2 separate regions of the Homo sapiens genome follow, and region 2 is linked to region 1. The links come from fine-mapping of genetic effects on plasma protein levels. A gene starts in region 1. The other region holds a variant in brackets. All regions are shown on one strand. Distances are from middle to middle.

Region 1 (9,459 bases):
GATACACGAGCCCCGTGGCTCCTTCTCCCGTTCACTACTCAGCCCCTTGCCTGCATCTAGAGAAGACTATTTTCAAGCTCTTTCCCACCTGTCATCCCATGTGGTCACAACAGTCCAGAGAGGAAAAGGAAGTCCAGAGAGAGGGTGTGGTCAGCTCAAGATCACACAGGGCTTCCAACCCGAGGAGGTCCTCTACAGCCCACATGTCCCAGCCGTGGGACACTTCCCTTTAATGCAAAATCCCAGGGGTCTGAGTCCCTAGTCTATGAGGGCACAGAAAGCCGTATCTTCACCGAGCAATGTACATAGGTCCCTCCAGGCCACCTTGGCCAGACCACGTCCCCTCCTCCAGCCTCCTGGCTCCAGCCACCACACCTCCCTTCAGGTGCTCCCCCGTGCCATCTGGATGTCCACTCACCTTAGCTGCCACCGCAAACCATGGCCTGCTCTGCCCCAAACATGGTCTCAGACCCTCCCCTCCATCCGCATGGGGTAACAGAGGCAGGTGATCCAGTCCAGCAAGCTTTGCTGAGGACTTCAGGATAGCAGCTGAGAATTACCGGCTGAGCATGGAAGAAAAGATGTAAGGGTCTGCTCACATGGAATGGGTCTGCCCTCAGCAGTCACAGGCCAAGCTGACACCTCATTGCCAATCCCATTGCAAGAGACAGTTCCCTTAACCATCATCGAACCCCCGTCCTACCTAGTCTCAGCTTCTACTCCTTAGAGTAAGATAGAGAAAGCAGCTGGCCCTTCTAAGGCCACTACCCAGTCCTCACTTCTCACTTGAGGGCTGACTGCATCCAGGATGATTGAAAATGAGAAAGTAAGGCCAGGTGCAGTGGCTCACACCTGATATCCCAGCACTTTGGGAGGCCGAGGTGGGAAGATCACTTGAGGCCAGGAGTTTGAGACCAGCCTGGGCAACATAACAAGACCCTGTCTACAAAAAATACGAAACTCGCTGGGTGTAGTGGTGTGCGCCTGTAGTCCCCGCTACTCAGGAGGCTGAGGTAGGAGGATTACTTGAGCCGGGGAGGTGGAGGTTGCAGTGAGCCGAGATCACGCCACTGCACTTCAGCCTGGGTGACAGAGTGCGATTCTGTATCAAAAAAAAAAAAAAAAGAAAGAAAGAAAGAAAGAAAGAAAGAAAGAAAGAAAAAGGAAAAAGAAAATGAGAAAGTCTTGTCCTTTCAGAAGAACTCCACCCTCTGCCCACAGAGTCTCCCTCTGGGACAACCCATCCCAACCCGTGATCTGAGCTGTATGCTCTGAAATAACATCATACGGGGTTCGCCCTCAGCTCACTTCATTCCTGCTGACATCTGCCTGGGCTCCCGGCTTTCTCCCAAAGGAGTATAAATTTGAACGAGGACACATATGGACCTTGGGGAGGGGAATCTGAGGGCTCCTCCCTTAGTGCTCTAGGAAGTGGTAGAGCAGTAGTGACAAGAGGGACTCCAAGGAAAGAGCAGGATGGGCTGTGAGTGTGTGAAGGGCCACTCAGGGCACAGCTCAAGGCATCTTGGGGCTCTGCTCAAGCCCTCCAGGTGCCAATCTTTCTGACCACGACCATCTCTGTCCAGCCCGGGGCATAGTCAAAGGGAGGTAAGACTCCCTCGTGCCTTGCTTCCCCAGAGGGCAGCCTAGTGCCAGGCGCATGGAGGCCTTCAGATGAATCAAACTGACCCAAGTCCAAATTGGAATAAAATGAGTGAGGGTTGCCCTCACCTCTTCCTGGAAAAGCATAAACAAGAGTAAATGTGGGCCAGGCAAGGTGGCTCACACCTGTAATCCCAGCACTTTGGGAGGCCGAAGTGGGCAGATTACTTGAAGTCGGGAGTTTGAGACCAGCCTGGCCAACATGGTGAAACTCTACTAAAAATACAAAAATTAGCTGGGTGTGGTGTTGGGCGTCTGTAATCCCAGCTACTCAAGAGGCTAAGGCAGGAGAATCACTTGAACCCGGGCGGTGGAGGTTGCAGTGAGCTGAAATTGAGCCACTGCATTCCAGCCTGGGCGACAGAGTGAGACTCCATTTCAAAAAAAAACAAAAAACAAAAGAGGCCTGACACAGTGGCTTATACCTGTAATCCCAGCATTCTGGGAGGCAGACGAATCATCTGAGGTCAGGAGTTCAAGACCAGCCTGGCCAACATGGTGAAATCCCATCTCTACTAAAAATACAAAAAGTAGCCCGGCATGGTGGTGGGCGCCTATAATCCCAGCTACTTGGGAGGCTGAGGCAGGAGAATCGCTTAAACCCAGGAGGCGGAGGTTGCAGTGAGCCGAGATTGCGCCATTGCACTCTAGCCTGGTCAACAAGAGCGAAACACCGCCTCAAAAAAAAAAAAAAAAAAAAAAAAAAAAAGATTAAATGTGACATTGGGCAGAGTTAGAAAAGAAACATCTACATTCAGCCAGGGCAACAAGAATGATCTAGAACATGTGGTGTGAGTGGAAAGAACCAGCGTCCAAGCTGCTGTGCCTCTGCCTGGCTGTCTGGTGGGGCTGCCAGGGGGTGGTGCCTGCAGAACAGCCAAACAGCTGGCCAGATTTTCCCCCTAAGCCAGATGATGCCATTTGTTGTTCCACCCCCAGCCAGCTGTCAGTCCTTCCCGGGCCCCAGGAGAGGTGCCCCATTGCTGCCCCCTGCACTCAGCTGTCTCTGACTCCTAGGGCAGGCAGAGGGGCAAGGGGACTGGGCACACTGGCTGGGTCAAGGAGTCAAAGGTCTTCACTTGGCACTCACTGCCACAGGCCATAGGAAGCCAACCCAGTGTGGGCCCAGGGTTTGGGACAGATCCCACCAGCTGGAGCAGGAGAAGGCACCTCCAGCCCCCTTTAGCCAGGGCCTCTCTCTGTTCCTGACCGGCACCAAGGCCTGGGTGGTGGGAGGGGCTCAGATCTGGCAGAACACCAGCTGTCCAGGCAGATTAGCAGGTCGGAGTGCCCACGCTGGCTTCACCAGCCCAGAGGACTTGGGCAAGTCACTGCTCTCCTTTTGCTGCCCTTTCTCTGTGAGAGGTGAATAAACATCGTAAACAGTGTTGTCCTCAGATGGGCTTAGAGAGCTTGGCAAGCTAGAGCGTGTGAAGTCCAGGCATGGTGCACTGCACGGGGCAGGTGCTGGTCCGTTGGGCATTCTTTTTCCTGGGAAAGCCTCTCTGTGGCTTTGTTTCCTCCTCTGTGAAGTGGGGGGTTTGTAGGAATCCAGCGTGACCACAAGATGAAGGCCTCAGCATAATTCCTGGAACCGAGGTCCTCCATAAACAGGATTCTGCCTCAGGACCCGTGTCCCTCCCCTTTTCTCTCTCCACAGGACTCAGCCCCTGGCAGGCTTGTGGTGCAGATAGTGAATGGTCTTGCAGTGGCGGGATTTGTCCACCTGTGTGTCCCTGTGTTTGAGTTTCTTCTGCTTGAGTCTGAACTTCAGGCTGGTGGCCACATAACCCAACACTCTCACTTTACGGATGAGAAAACAGAAGCCCAGAGAGGGCCAGGGACTTGTCCAGGTTCCTTCAGCCAGTCCATGCCGGAGCTGTACTAGGACACCCTCCTCTCTGTGCCCAGAGCGATGGCCACAACACCCCTTTCTGTCTGCTTGAAAACCCCTCTTCATTCTTGCTGATCTGTACTCATCTTTCAGTCTCTGCCTCTTTAGCAACCAGAGCCTACGAAGAGGTGACCAGGCTCTGGTCACCCCCCAGAGCAGAGAAACTGGGGGTGTAGGGGTGGGAACTGAAGGGGAGGGGCATGGCAGGGGCTGAGAATGCGGCTGTTCTGGCCTGGGGGCCTGAGCCAGGCTGCCTACAGAGGAGCCAGTATGCCCAGACATTAGAGCTTTGTGAGTTGAAGAGCTTGGTGTGGGGATGGTTGTTTTGTTGAGCTGACATTGTTTCAGGTTGACTGAATGTCAGTGTCTTAGTGTCCAGGAGCCAGCTCTTTAGAACCAGCCAGGGTCTTGGGGAGAATGTGGCTGGGGCATCCTAGTCTGGATCAAGGAGGGGAGGGGGCTGTCCGTGCCCCGTGAGTGCTGAGCAGTTCCCTGTGGAGAAAACTGCAGAGGAGGAGTGAGTCCTAGCGTGGATACCAAGAGAGACGAGAGGAGCAGGCGCCCTTGCACCTTGGGGCCAGAGCAGAAGGGCCTGGCCAGAGTGGAGGATGGACAGAGGCAGGACAGGGACCTCTGGAGGCTGGTGCCTTCCTGCCAGGGCACTGGGAGCCCTGAGGACAGAGCGATCAAACCTTCATCCACAAAGGAAGAGTCAGGAGAACCATGGGGACCAGGAGGGCCCCGAGAGGCCTTGGGGGCTGGCCAGGCGGGTGGGGTGGGCCAGACTCACAGCTGTCCAGATGTGGGTAAGAGATAACTCTGTTTACTGGGCACCCAGTGGGAGCGGGGTGGGGGGTGTGGGAAGGGGCTCCCAGGGCCAGTGGGGCGGGCAGATTAGGAGGCGGGGGCATGAGTCAGGGGTTTGCGAGCTGCCCCTGGGGCGCTGGTGCTGTCAGAACGAGTGGGAACGTAGCTGGTCGCAGAGGGCACCAGCGGCTGCAGGACTTCACCAAGGGACCCTGAGGCTCGTGAGCAGGTGGGCAGGGCAGGGAGGGGCTGGGGATGGTCCTTCGGTGCCTGCCCTGAGGGCTTCTACAGGTGCCCAGCCTGAATCTATGCCCAGGTGGGCCAGGCTCCTGACCTCCAAGGGGGTGCAGGTGGGTGGGGTGAGAATGTTACCATGCATATGTTGCCCCTAAGGGAACAGGCCCATTGGCACCTGAAAAGAGGAGGGTGGCAGGTGGTCAATGGCAGCAGAGGTATGTGTGGCTCCGGTGCGTGTGTTGCGGGGGGTATCTGATCCCCTCCAGGTATGGGCCCTTGTCAGCTTGTTGGATCCCACAGGGTCAGGTCTTGTCCACCCCAGACTCCTTCCTTCCTAATGGGGTCCTCAGACCACCCCCTCTCCCACCTAGGAGGCAGGATGTCAGCTGACACAGTATCCCCTTTGGGACACTTCCAGGGGTCTACCTGGGGCACCTGGCTCCACGCCCAGCGTGGTCAGTATTGGAGGGAACTGCAGAGCCTCCTACCACATGAGAATCTCAAAACACTTAGCTCAGGCTAATTCCATGGGAACTGAGGGCAAATCAGAGGGGAAATGAAGATGGCAAGTCTGACTGTAACCCCAGCAGCAAGGGATAATGACAGCAAACATTTTCATAGCGCTCCTTATATGCTAGGCACTGTTCTAAGCCCCTTACAAATGTAAATTTCCTTAATGCTTACAACAGGTCTATGAGATGGGCATCATTATCATCACCCCCATTTTACAGATGAGAAAACTGAGGCACAGAGAGTTGAAGTCACACGCCGTTAGTAAATGGCAGGGCTGGGCTTTGAATCCAGGCAGTCCGACTGCAGAGTCCGTGATCTTAACAACTAACTCTAAACCAGCTAACAGTTGTTTTGTTGGAGGCAACTTAGCATAGTGCTTAGGGATGTGGCTGGAGTCAGGTAGTCCAGGCTGTAACCTGGCTCTGATACCTACCTGCTGGGTGGCTGAAGCAGGTAAATGTCTCTGAACCTCAGCTTTCGCATCTGTAGAATGGATTAATGACATTACTCTTCTTCCTCTTAGAATCCCCAAACCACTTCACAGAATGCTTTGGGGATTCTAAGAGTTAAGGCAGTACAGTTCTTTGTGCAGTTCGGGCTGATTACACAAAGGTGGTGCCATACCACTAGGAAGTTGTCCCTGTCATCTGGTCAATCCCCTCTCCCGCCGTGTCTTCCCAGCTGTGCTATACCTTCTAGGCTCAGATGTCCCGCTCACCCTTATCTGGCCTGGCCCTGGCCAGCTGGCTAGCTGGCCAGGTGTTTGGTGCACTTCCAAAACTTGGGGCAGCGATCTGGGTCCAGGCCCTTATCAGTGCTAGGCAGCACAAGGCCTGCAGCTGGGGGGCGGCCTGGCTGGCGGGTGGCAATCTGGGTCATGGGTGCGCCCTGTAAGTCTCCAACTGAGCTCAAGGCACCTCTGTTTTCCCCTCTTCTCTCTCACTGATGTCTCAGAACCCTGGCAGGAAGGCACTCCCATTGTACAGATGGGGTGACTGAGGCCTACAGGCTGGAAGCTGCCCAAGGCCCTTCAGCCAGTCAGTGGCAGAGAGGCAGCCTGGACCTCTGGATTCTGCAGCTCTGAGGGCCCCTCTGACCATTCCACTCCTCAGATAGGCAACCAAGGCCACAGTCCCAGCCCCATGGGTGGGACTTTTAGTACCTAAGGCTTAGACACCCTGGAGGCCTTAGCATCTGAGGCCTAAGAAAGTGCATGGGCAAGTCCAGAGAAGGAAGAAAGTGAATAAAGATGGAAGAGAAAGAGGAACTTTGGGAGAAGCAGAGAGGGAGGAGGAAAAAGAGAGAGAAGAGGTGGGTCATCAGGGTCCTCAGGAGCAAAGCCAAGCCCTGCAGTAGGGACTACCTCGTCCTCAGGTCCAGGACCCCTCCCCCGCACCCCATCACTTGCCCCACCTGCCAAGGCAGGGGTCTCTCCCATTCTCCAGTCTGGTGAGATCCAGTAATCCCCTCCCTACCCCCAGGACTGCAGGGTCACCCATTCCTCAGAAAGAAGGCTGTTTGCACATCCCTTTCTTTCTTTTTTTTTTTTTTTTGAGACGGAGTCTCGCTCTGTTGCCCAGGCTGGAGTGCAGTGGCGCAATCTCGGTTCACTGCAACCTCTGCCCCCTGGTTCAAGGGATTCTCCTGCCTCAGCTTCCTGAGTAGCTGGGATTACAGGCATGCGCCACCACGCCTGGCTAATTTTTGTATTTTCAGTAGAGATGGGGTTTCACCATGTTGGCCAGGCTCCCTGCCCCATGCCCTCACGTGGCATTTTCCCACCTTGCTCAGCCCACCTGTTCAGCTCCACCCAGGCATGCCTCACATCTGGACTCCCAGCCCTTCACATCTCACCAGTGCTTGGCTGGGCACGGTGGCTCACACCTGTAATCCCAGCACTTTGGGAGGCCGAGGTGGGTGGATCACGAGGTCAGGAGATTGAGACCATCCTGGCTAACACAGTGAAACCCCGTCTCTACTAAAAAAATACAAAAAATTAGCTGGGCGTGGTGGCGGGCGCCTGTAGTCCCAGCTACTCGGGAGGCTGAGGCAGGAGAATGGCGTGAACCCAGGAGGCGGAGCTTGCAGTGAGCCAAGATCGCGCCACTGCACTCCAGACTGGGAGAGAGAGCAAGACTGTGTCTCAAAAACAAGAAAAACTCACCTGTGTTTTTAGGCTAGCGCCAGTGACCCCTCCTCCGGTGACTCCACCCCCGAGTGCTGCAAACGCGTCCTGCTCTTCTTCCTGCCATACAGATCCTTGGCACTCAGCACTTTCGGCCCCTGGGGTCCATGTCACCTCGGAAGCACTGAGGCTGCCCTGTGTTCCCAGTTTGCCTCCCTGTCGCGGCTAGGAGCTTCCCCAGAGTAGAGACGGGCCTTGTTCAGCTCAGCACCCCCTCCCACCAGCCCCCAGTGCTCAGCACCCCCTCCCACCAGCCCCCAGTGATCAGCAGCCCCTCCCCACAGCCCCCAGTGCTCGGCACCCCCTCCCACAGCCCCCAGTGCTCAGCACCCCCTCCCCACAGCCCCCAGTGCTCGGCACCCCCTCCCCACAGCCTCCAGTGCTCAACACAATGCCAGGCACAGAGTGGGAACCTTTGTTGAACCGACCCAATTGCCTGTCACCTCAATGCCCTGTGCTGTAGTGGGCGAGGAGGGAAAAGAGGCACCTCCACACCCAGTCTGGGGCCACCTTAGGTGACCCCTGTCCTCCCCTTGGACCTGCCCTCACATTCCTGGGGAAGGCACACCTTCCTCTCTGCTAGGGACACAACTGAGAAAACTGAGACCCCGAGCTCAGAGGCCTCTTGGCTGGGGCCTAGTCATCCTGGCTCCCCAGTCTCAGAGCCCCAACCCCGCAATAGGGAGCCATTCTTACAATCATTCAGTAAATGTTTATTGAGCACCTACTACGTGACAGCCACTCTGCTAGGAGTAGTGAATTTCGTGGGGATGGGACATACAGGGTCTTCGCACTCAGGTAGTTTCCCTTCCAAAAGCATTGTCAGATAATATGAACACAAATCAATCAAGAAACCACGTATTGGTTTTTTTGTTTTGTTTTGTTTTCCTTCTAAAGAGTCTCACTCTGTCACCCAGGCTGGAGTGCAGTGGTGCCATCTTGGCTCACTGCAACCTCTGCCTCCCAGGCTTAGGCAATCCTCCCACCTCAGCCTCTCAAGTAGCTGGGACTACAGGTATACGTCACCACACCCAGCTAATTTTTGTATTTTTGTAGACATGTGGTTTCACTATGTTGCCCAGTTGGTCTCGGACTCCTGAGCTCAAGCAATCTGCCTGCCTCAGCCTCCCAAAATGTTAGGATTACAGGTGTGAGCCACCACGCCCAACCAAGAAACCATTTAAAAATTAGTCAGGCATGGTGGTGTGTGCTAGCTACTCTGGAGGCTGAGGTGGGAGGTTCACTTAAGTCTAGGAGTTTGAGACTGATGTGAGCTGTAATCATGCCACTGCATTCTAGCCTGGATAACAGAGGGAGACCCGCTCTCAAAAAAATAAAAAAGAAGAAAGAAATCAGCAGCCCACACTGAGATAGTGAGACCCTGTTTCTACACACAGATTTTTTTTTTTTTAATTACCTGGGCACTGTGGCATGCCTATAATTCCAGTTACTCAGGAGGCTGGGCCAGGAGGATCCCTGGGGCCCAGGAGTTCAAGGCTGCAGTGAACTATGATCATGCCACTGCACTCTAAGCCTGGGTGACAGAGTGAGACTCTGTCTCAAAAAGGAAGAGAGAGAGAGAGGAAGGAAGGAAGGAAGCAGGGATGGAGGAAGGAAGGAAGGAAGGAAGGAAGGAAGGAGGGAAGGGAGGGAAGGAGGGAGGGAAAAGAAACCAGAACATGACAGATTGGGTCAAGGTGGTGGCCAGGGAGGGCCTCTGAAGAGGAGACATTTGGGCCGAGATGTGAGAAGGTCTGAGGTATTGGGGGGAGGGTGTCCGGGATATGGACAGCTGGATGTGCAAAGGCCCTGGGACAGGAAAGGGCTTAGTGAGTTCTAGGAACCACAGGAGGCCAATAGGCTAGGTGGGGAGAGAGCGAGAGAGACGGAGTGCAAGATGGGGTCAGGGAGAGAAGTAGGACCACATCGTCCAGACCTGCGGACCACTCCCAAGGATGCTGCAGCCCATGCCCGGTGGGCAGCAGCTATTTCTGAGAGAAGAGCATGTGTTTAGAGCCCCTCAGGGGAGCTAAGCCCCCCTGAAGAAGAGACCAGCAGGTCCCCTGGTATTAGCTGAGTCCCAGGGATGGGCAAGAAAAGAAGCCAGGTGAAGACTAGAGAATGAAGGAGGGAGATGGACCTGAGGGTGACCTGCCCATCT
Region 2 (9,459 bases), 39 kb after region 1:
AATCCTCCTACCTCAGCCTCTGGAGTAGCTAGGACGACAGGCACCCACCACCACACCCAGCCAATTAAAAAATAAAATTTTGTAGAGACAAGGTCTTCCTATGTTGCGTAGGCTGGTCTCAAACTCCTGGGCCCAAGCGATCCTCCCACCTCGACCTCCCAGAGTGCTGGGATTATAGGCATGAGTCATTCCATCTGGCCCTTATATAATTTTTTAAACAAAACTTCAAAATACATGAAGTTAAAACTAATGGAACTGAAAGGAGAAACAGATAAATCTACCATTATGGCAGGAACTACCACTACTCTCTCAATAATTGATAGAACTAGTGGACAGAAAATCATGAAGGATATAGAACACCTAAATAGCACCAGCAACCAACTTGACCTAATTTATCTTTAGGGTACACTCCACCCAACTACAGCAGAATACATATTCTTTTCAAATGCCCATGGATCATTCACCTTAAAATAGACAACATTCTGGGCCACAAACACAAACCTTAACAAATTTAAAGGAATGGAAATCACAGAAAACATAGCCTATGTTCATAACATTATTAAATTATAAATCAATAACAGAAAGACATCTAGCAAATCCCTAAATATTTGTTTCTGTTTGTTTTGAGATAGAGTCTCTCTCTGTCGCCCAGGCTGGAGTACAGTGGCGCGATCTCGGCTCACTGCAACCTCCGCCTCCCGGGTTCAAGCAATTCTCCTGCCTCAGCCTCCCAAGTAGCTGGGATTACAGGTGTGTGCCACTATGACCAGCTAATTTTTGTATTTTTAATAGAGACAACGGGGTTTTACCATGTTGGCCAGGCTGCTCTCAAACTCCTGACCTCAAATGATCTGCTCGCCTTGGCCTCCCAAAGTGTTGGGATTACAGGCATGAGCCACAGCGCCAGGCCACAAATCCCTAAGTATTTGGAAAGTAAAACAATGCACTTCTAAATAACCCATAGACCAAAGCTAAAGTCATAAGTGAAATTGAGAAATATTTTGAACTAAAGGAGGATGAAAACATATCAAAATTTGTGAGATGCAATGAAGTAGTGCTTAGGGGGAAACAGAGCATTAAATACCTAGATTAAAAAATAAGAGGCCAGGCGAGCAGGCTCACGCCTGTAATCTCAGCACTTTGGGAGGCTAAGGCAGGCGGATCATTTGAGGTCAACAGAGTGAGACTCCATCTCAAAAAAAAAAAAAAAAAAAGAAAGAAAGAAAGAAAGAAAGAAAAAGAAAATAAGAAATATCTCAAATCAATAACCTAAACTCCTGCTATAAGAAACTAGAAAAAATGAGCAAATTAAACCCAAAGCAGACAAAAGGAAGGAAATAATAAAGATAGAATAGAAATCAATGAAATTGGCCAGGCTTGGTGGCTCAGGTCTGTAATCCCAGCACTTTGGGAGGCCAAGACAGGTGGGTCACTTGAGGTCAGGAGTTCGAGACCAGCCCGGCCAACATGGTGAAACCCCATCTCTAATAAAAATACAAAAATTAGCCGGGCATGGTGGTGCACACCTATCGTCCTGGCTACTCGGGAGGCTGAGATGGCACAGCCGCTTGAACCTGAGAGACAGAGTTTGCAGTGAGCCGAGATAGCACCACTGCACTCCAGCCTGGGTAACTGAGTGAGTCACTCAAAAAAAAAAAAAAAAATCAATGAAATTAAGAACAAACAGTAGAGGAAATCAATGAAACGAAAAGCTAGTTCTCTGAAAAAAAATGAGTAAAATTTATAAACCTTTGGTCAGACTGACCAAGAAAAACAGAGAAGAGACACAAATTATAAATAACAGAAATGGAAGACATCACTACAGACCCTAAAAACATTAAAAGAATAACAAAGGAATACTACAAACATAAATACCCATACATTTGACAACTTAAACGAAATGGTAAAATTCCTATTGGCAGGGCGCGGTGGCTCACTCCTGTAATCCCAGCACTTTGGGAGGCTGAGGCAGGCGGATCGCTTGAGGCCAGGAGTTTGAGACCAGCCTGGCCAACATGGTGAGACCCTGTTTCTACTAAAACTACAAAAATTAGCTGGCCGTGGTGGTGCGCCCAGCTACTTGGGAGGCTGAGGCAGGAGAATTGCTTGAGCCTGGGAGGCAGAGGTTGCAATGAGCTGAGATCGCGCTACTACACTCCAGCCTGGGCAACAAGAGCAAAACTCCACCTCAAAAAATAATAATAATAATTAATTAAATAAATTTAAAAGTAAAATAAAGTTCCTATACGTCAGGATAAAAAAAATCCTATCATCTGTGCTGTGTGGGAATTTTTTTTCTTTTTTCTTTTCTTTTGAGACAGGGTCTCACTCTGTCATCCACGCTGGAGTGCAGTGGAGCAATCATGGCTCACTGCAGCCTCAACCTCCTGGGTTCCAGTGATCCTCCTGCCTCAGCCTCCTGAGTAGCTGGGATCACAGGCATGAGGGCACTATACCCGGCTAATTTTTGTATTTTTTTGTAGAGAGAGGGTCTTGCTATGTTGCCCAGACTGGTCTCAAACTCCTGGGCTCAAGCAATCCCGTTGCTTTGGCCTTCCAAAGTGCTGGGATTATAGGCATGCGCTACCACACCCAACCCATATATAGTTTTTTAAACAGAGTGAAAGACACAAACAGCCAAATTCACTCAAAACGAAATAGAGGATTTCAACTGGGCAAGGTGGCTCACGCCTATAATCCCAACACTTTGGAGTTGGGATTATAAGCCCAGGGGTTCAAGATCAGCCTGGGCAACATAGCAAGACTTCATCTCTTAAAAAAAAAAAAAAAAAAAACAGGAAGAAGAGTTTCCAGTCTAACATGTAAAGAGCTTGGAAATCACCTCTACATTCAAACAAGTAAAAAGCTGAACAAACTGAAAAATCAACCCTTCTTAGATCCATCAGAGAAGTGGGGTCACACAGCAAATTGCTATGCCCTAAATTGGTGAGACAGTCAGATAAAATCACAATTTCTTTTTTTCTTCGACAGGCTCTTGCTCTGTCTGGCGTACAGTGGCAAAATGATAGCTCACTGCAGCCTCAAATACCTGGGCTCAAGCGATTCTTCCATCTCAGCCTCTCTAATAGTTGGGACTACAAGCACGAGCCACCACACCCAGCTAATTTTTCAATTTTTGGTAGAGATGGGGTCTCCCTATGTTGTCCAGGCTGGTCTTGAACTACTGGGCTCAAGCAATACTCCTGCCTCAGCCTCCCAAAGTGCTGGGATTACAGGCATAAGCCACCACGCCCAGCCTGAGAATCACAGTTGATGGGAGCAGAAACTCACAAGCAGTAACCTCCACAGGAACCAGTGCCAGGGTAGAAAAACCTGAAGTGTAATTGACAAATTGCTGTAGGCTCAATGTGAGCAACTCAGAAAGTTAAAAACTGCAGGGGGAGAGGGTCAGGGGTTAGTGAGGCGGGAAGTGAGCGTAATAAAGTTTCTCTAGGGAGGCAGAGCCAGGGGAGAAAGTTGGAGTGGTGACCTAAGCAGGCAGTGGTGTGATCTGGAATCAAATCGGCCTGTGGTGCGGTGCGGAGACTCCATGAGGCCCTGCTTTGCTCTTCCTCTTGGCCCTGCTCTATGTCCGCTGGGACCACTTCCTTCCTGTCCTCACTTTGCTAGCTCCAATCCACAGCTGTTGTAGCAGAGGATGCTAATGGCCCAGGCTCACTTCCATGGGCTATATGGAGGTCCTGCAATCAATGCGTGCCCTCGACTTCAACACCCAACTCAGGTCACGCAGGGAGGCAGGCCATCAGTCTGGTGTGTGATGCTGTGCTGGGTGTGAAGGGGGTGACAAGGAAGAGAAAGCCCTGTAGCTGCCTGCTCAGCTCTATCCTGGGAAGGAGTAACCTGAAATTTGCTGGAATGCCAATCACTCTCAC[C/T]GTCTCCACCAGCAGCCTCAACCTCATGGCCGCAGACTGCAAACAGGACACAGCTGAGGATGTTGCCTACGTTGCCAAAGACCCTGTGAATCAGAGAGCCTGCCACATTCTGGAGTGTCCCAAAGGCCCTCCCAGGATGTCATTAGCACCATTGGCCAGGCCTTCGAGTTGTGCTTCAAACAATACCTCACGAACCCACCCCAACTGCTCACCCCCAAGACAGGATGGCTGGCTTTGATGGATCAGCTTGGGATGAGGAGGAGGAAGAGCCACCTGACCATTAGTACTATAATGACGTCCCTGGGAAGGAACCTTCTCTTGGGGAGTTGGTAGACATGAGGCTTCGGGAAGGAGCCACTTCAGAGGCTGCTTGACCCACTCCACCCAGTGTCTGGACCCCCAGCCACTTGGGAGCTACACTGCCTGTGGGATAGCCTGCTGGGGGAGATCCAGAAGTCCGCAAACAGATGCCACCTCCACCACCCTGTCCAGCAGGCAGAGAGCTCTTCAATGATCCCTATATCAACGTCCAGAACCTAGACAAGGCCCGGCAAGCAGAAGGTGGTGCTAGGCCCCCCCATCCTGCCATCAATCGCAGTGCACCCTGGGACCTCTTTGACATGAAGCCCTTTAAAGATGCTCTTTGGGTGCCTCCCCCTCCCCAGTGGTTTCCATGGCTGAGCAGCTCCAAGGGGAGCCCTGGTTCCACGGGAAGCTGAGCCAGCGAGAGGCTGAGGCATTGCTGCAGCTCCATGGCGACTTCCTGGTGCGGGAGAGCATGACCAAGGCCAGTATGTGCTTACTGGCTTGCAGAGTGGGCTGCCTAAGCACCTGCTATTGGTGGACCCTGAAGGACTGGTTTGGACAAAGGATCACTGCTTTGAGAGTGTCAATCCCAGCACTTTGGGAGACCAAGCCAGGCAGATCACAAGGTCAGGAGATCGAGACCATCCTGGCTAATACGGTGAAACCCGGTCTCTACTAAAAATACAAAAAATTAGCTGGGCGTGGTGGCAGGCGCCCGTAGTCCCTACTCAGGAGGCTGAGGCAGGAGAATAGTGTGAACCCAGGAGGCGGAGCTTGCAGTGAGCCGAGATCACGCCACTGTACTCCAGCCTGGGCAACAGAGCGAGACTCCGTCTCAAAAAAAAAAAGAGAGTGTCAGTCACCTCATCAGCTACCACATGGACAATCACTGGCCTATCATCTCTGTGGGCAGTGAACTGTATCTACAGCAACCTGTGAAGTGGAAACTGTGATCTGCCCCAGCGCCCTCTTCCAGAAGATTCCACCCTATTCCCTAACTCTCGGGACCTCATTTGGGAGTGTTCTGTGGGTTTGGCCTTGTGTCAGAGCTGAGGGTAGTGTGGACACTGGGTTTAGTATCCAGCTAAGTGAGAGAGTTTGAGTCAGAAGCCTGGGGGAGAATCTTGCTTCTCCCCAAACATTAATCACCCGAAGTATTAATGGACAGAGTGGCCCCTTACCTACGCCTTTCCTGTGCCAACCCGATGTCCCTTCCCCAAGAAGGTGAGTGCTTGTCATGGAAAATGTCCTGTGGTGATAGGCCCAGTGGAGCAGTCACCCTTCTGGGCAAGGGGGAACAAATCACACCTCTGAGCTTCAGGGTACCCCAGACACCTCTCCACAACCCCCACCCCATGTTTAAACTTTGTGCCTTTGACCACCTCCTAGGTCTGAAGATATTTTATGCAAAGAGTTCGTGCCAGATGTGGTGGCTCACACCTGTAATCCCAGCACTTTGGGAGGCCGAGGCGGATGGATCACTTGAGGTCAGGAGTTCAAGACCAGTCTGGCCAACATGGCGAAAACCCGTCTCTACTAAAAGTACAAAATTAGCTGGGTGTAGTGGCATGCACCTATAATCCTAGTTACTAAGGAGGCTGAGGCAGGAGAATCGCTTGAACCCGGGAGGTGGAGGTTGCAGTGAGCCAAGATTGTACCACTACACTCCCGCCTGGACGACAGAGTGAGATTCCATCTCAAAAAAAAAAAAAAAAAGAGTTCATGGGTCCCTGAATTCAATGACAGTGATGCCGACACCTTCTTGGCTTCTGAGACCCTGTTTTCTCCTTGCTCAGCACCCTCTCTGGTTTGGGTTGGGAGAATAGAGACAAGAATGGCATATATCCCCTCTCCCTGGGGATATGCAACCCTTAGAGATTGTCCCAGAGCCCCCCTCCCAGCCAGGGGGAAGATGGACCTGTCCCTTGCTCAGTGCCTCCTGGCCAGAGCCCCTCAATCCATTTCATAAACCCTGCCCTCCCATGATGCATGCCTATTGTACTCTATAGCCAAAATGTAGCCCTTCCTCCTGGAGCCTCTGCCCTGCCTCCCTTTCTGGGAGAGGAGGGGTGGGGGGTGACTGAATTTGGGCTTCGTGTACAGTAAACTCTCCCAGGTGGATTTTGTGGAGGTGGGAAAAGGGGCATTGAGACTCTAAAGCAGTAGACCATCCCTGAATACTATCTGCAGAGTTGGAACTGCATTCTTTTAAAATTTTATATGCATATATTTTAGGGATATAGACTTACTTTCCTAATTTTGTTTTCCATGGCTTATTCTTGAGCACAAAATGATAATCAATTATTAAATTTATACATCACCTTTTTGAATTTTCCAAGACCTTTTGCAGCTCTTGGCATTTTCGTTGCCCAGGCCTGTGAGGTAACTGGGATCAGCAGCATTATTATTTATACCAGAGACCTGAGGCAGATGAAACTGATTTCCACCTAGGACTAGAAAAACTTGGGCCTCTTACCACGAGACTGGGAGGCAGAAGTTTGCCCAAATGCATGTTAGTTTCACAAAGGGGAAATGCAAAACCTGCAGTTCCTGAGTACCTTTTACAGGCGCAGCCCTGCCTAGGCCCGGAGTGGACACACGACAGCAAGCCGGGCTTTCTCTTTAGGCCTTGTGGATAAGAGAGAGTGGGCTGTTTCCATCCTGGCCTCCTTTTGTCGTTGTTGGGATGTTTCCCCGGGTCTCACTTGTAGCAAAAGGAAAACTCTTCATTAAAGTCCGTATTTCTTCTAAACATAAAAAATAAATAAATAAAAAATAAAAATTGCAGGTGGACTAGGTCAGATGGGGCCCTATATTTTTGTGAGTTTTACCTCTAAGAGCTCTACTCAATTGCCCTTTCCTTCATATCCTGCCATCCCCTCACACCATGTACCCCAAATCACCACACTCTATTGTTTTCTTTTTTTTTTTTTTTTTTGAGAAGAGTCTTGCTCTGTCACCCAGGCTAGAGTACAGTGGTGGGATCTCCGCTCACTGCAAGCTCCGCCTCCCAGGTTCAAGTGATTCTCTTGCCTCAGCCTGCCGAGTAACTGAGATTACAGGTGCTTGCCACCACGCCAGGCTAATTTTTGTATTTTTAGTACAGATAGGGTTTCACCATGTTGGCCAGGCTGATCTCGAACTCCTGATCTCAGGTGATCCACCCACCTCGGCCTCCCAAAGTGCTGGGATTACAGGCGTGAACCACCGCGCCAGCCTAGGAAATGTTCTATATCTCTAGTATCCAATAATGTAGCCACTAGACACATAGGGCCATGGATATATGGTAAATGTGACTGAGGAACTGAATTTTCCATTTTATTTAATTTTAATTAATTTGAACTTATGGCCAGGTGCGGTGGCTCACACCTGTAATCCTAGCAGTTTGGGAGATGGAGGCAGCATTTTGGGAGGCCAAGGTAGGTAGATCATTTGAGGTCAGGAGTTCAAGACCAGCCTGGGCAACATGGTGAAACCCAGTCTCTACTAAAAATACAAAAAGGTGGCCAGGAGTAGTGGTGCAGGCCTGTAGTCCCAGCTACTTGGGAGGCTGAGGCACGAGAAGCGCTTGAGCCTGGGAGGCAGAGGTTGCAGTGAGCCGAGTTCACACCACTGTACTCCAGCTTGGGTGACAGAGCAAGACTCTGTCTCAAGAAAAAAACAAGACTGGGCACAGTGGCTCAAGCCTGTAATCCCAGCACTTTGAGAGGCTGAGGTGGGCGGATCACCTGAGGTCGGGAGTTCGAGACCAGCCTGACCAACATGGAGAAACCCCGTCTCTACTAAAAATACAAAATTAGCCAAGTGTGGTGGCTCATGCCTGTAATCCCAGCTACTCGGGAGGCTGAGGCGGAAATCACTTGAACCCGGGAGGCAGAGGTTGCAGTGAGCCGAGATCGTGCCATTACACTCCAGCCTGGGCAACAAGAGTGAAACTCCGTCTCAAAAAAACAAAACAAAAAACAAAAAAAAAAACAGGAGTTCAAGAGTTCAAGACCAGCTAGGGCAACATAGCAAGACTTCACCTTAAAATAAATAAATAAATGTAGAATGGATAAATTGTGGTATATTTATACAATGGAAATACTACAAGAACAGGTAAAACTTGTCTATGGTGATAGAGCTCAGAACCTCAGAACATTGATGATACTTGGAGGGGAATACTGAGTAAACCTGCTAAATGCGCCAGGTGCGGTGGTTCACGCCTGTAATCCCAGCACTTTGGGAGACTGAGGCAGGTGGATCACGAGGTCAGGAGATCGAGACCATCCTGGCTAACACGGTGAAACCCCGTCTCTACTAAAAATTAAAATTAAAAAAAAAATTAGCCGGGCATGGTGGCGGGCACCTGTAGTCCCAGCTACTCAGGAGGCTGAGGCAGGAGAATGACACGAACCCGGGAGGCAGAGCTGGCAGTGAGCCAAGACCGTGTCACTGCACTCCAGCCTAGGTGACAGAGTGAGACTCCACCTCAAAAAAAAAAAAAAAAAAAAAAAACTTGCTAAATGCTAGAAATATTTGATATTTTGATCTGGGTGCTGGTTACATGGTATACACATATGTAATATGATACTAAATATACATACCTAAAAGTTCATCAAGCTGTATACTTATGCTGGGTTGGGTGGCTCCTGCCTGTAATCAGCACTTTAGGAGGCTGACGCAGGCAGATCACCTGAGGTGAGGAGTTCGCGACCAGCCTGGCCAACATGGCGAAACCCCGTCTTTATTGAAAATACAAAAATTAGCTGGGCATTGTCGTGGGCGCTTGTAATCCCAGCTACTCAGGAGGCTGAGGCAGGAGAATCGCCTGAAACCTGGAGGCGGAGGTTGCAGTGAGCTGAAATCGTGCCACTGCACTCCAGCCTGGGCAACAGAGCTAGACTCAATCTCAAAAAATAAATAAATAAAAATACAAAAAAATTAGCTGGTCGTGGTGGCGCATGCCTGTAATCCCAGCTACTCGGGAGGCTGAGGCAGAATTGCTTGAACCAGGGAGGTGGAGGTTGCAGTGAGCCAAGATCGTGCCATTGCACTCCAGTCTGGGTGACAAGAGCAAAGCTCCGTCTCAAAAAAAAAAGTTGTATACTTAAAGTATGTGTACTTTACTATCTCTGACTTACACAGCAATAAAAAAATAACAAGGGACAGGCCGGGCGCAGTGGCTCACGCCTGTAATCTCAGCACTTTGGGAGGCCAAGGTGGGCGGATCACCTGAGGTTGGGAGTTCGAGACCAGCCTGACCAACGTGGAGAAACCC

Alleles and levels. Alleles are on the strand shown, and positions count from the first base shown. The strength of an association depends on the size of the effect and on how common the allele is.
For the plasma level of the protein whose gene starts at base 4,511 in region 1, allele T in region 2 goes with a lower level than allele C (weak association).

The links. A credible set is the group of variants that fine-mapping cannot tell apart. PIP is the chance, under the fine-mapping model, that this variant and not a neighbour inherited with it causes the effect. Protein levels are from antibody-based Olink assays in UK Biobank. Linkage for the fine-mapping came from a reference panel and not from the study's own genotypes, which makes the PIPs less certain.
Region 2: its variant is the best candidate, but not a certain one, in a credible set for the plasma level of the SLC4A1 protein (UK Biobank, PIP 0.64).

Annotation. Positions count from the first base shown.
Region 1 is chr17:44,263,187-44,272,645 of GRCh38, reverse strand. SLC4A1 (solute carrier family 4 member 1 (Diego blood group)) reads left to right here and starts at 4,511. Exons shown (of 20, transcript NM_000342.4): 1 at 4,511-4,592.
Region 2 is chr17:44,224,453-44,233,911 of GRCh38, reverse strand. It overlaps the pseudogene SHC1P2. Among named protein-coding and RNA genes, the nearest start is that of UBTF, 9.5 kb to the right of the region's middle. The variant C/T (reference allele first, on the strand shown) is at 3,894.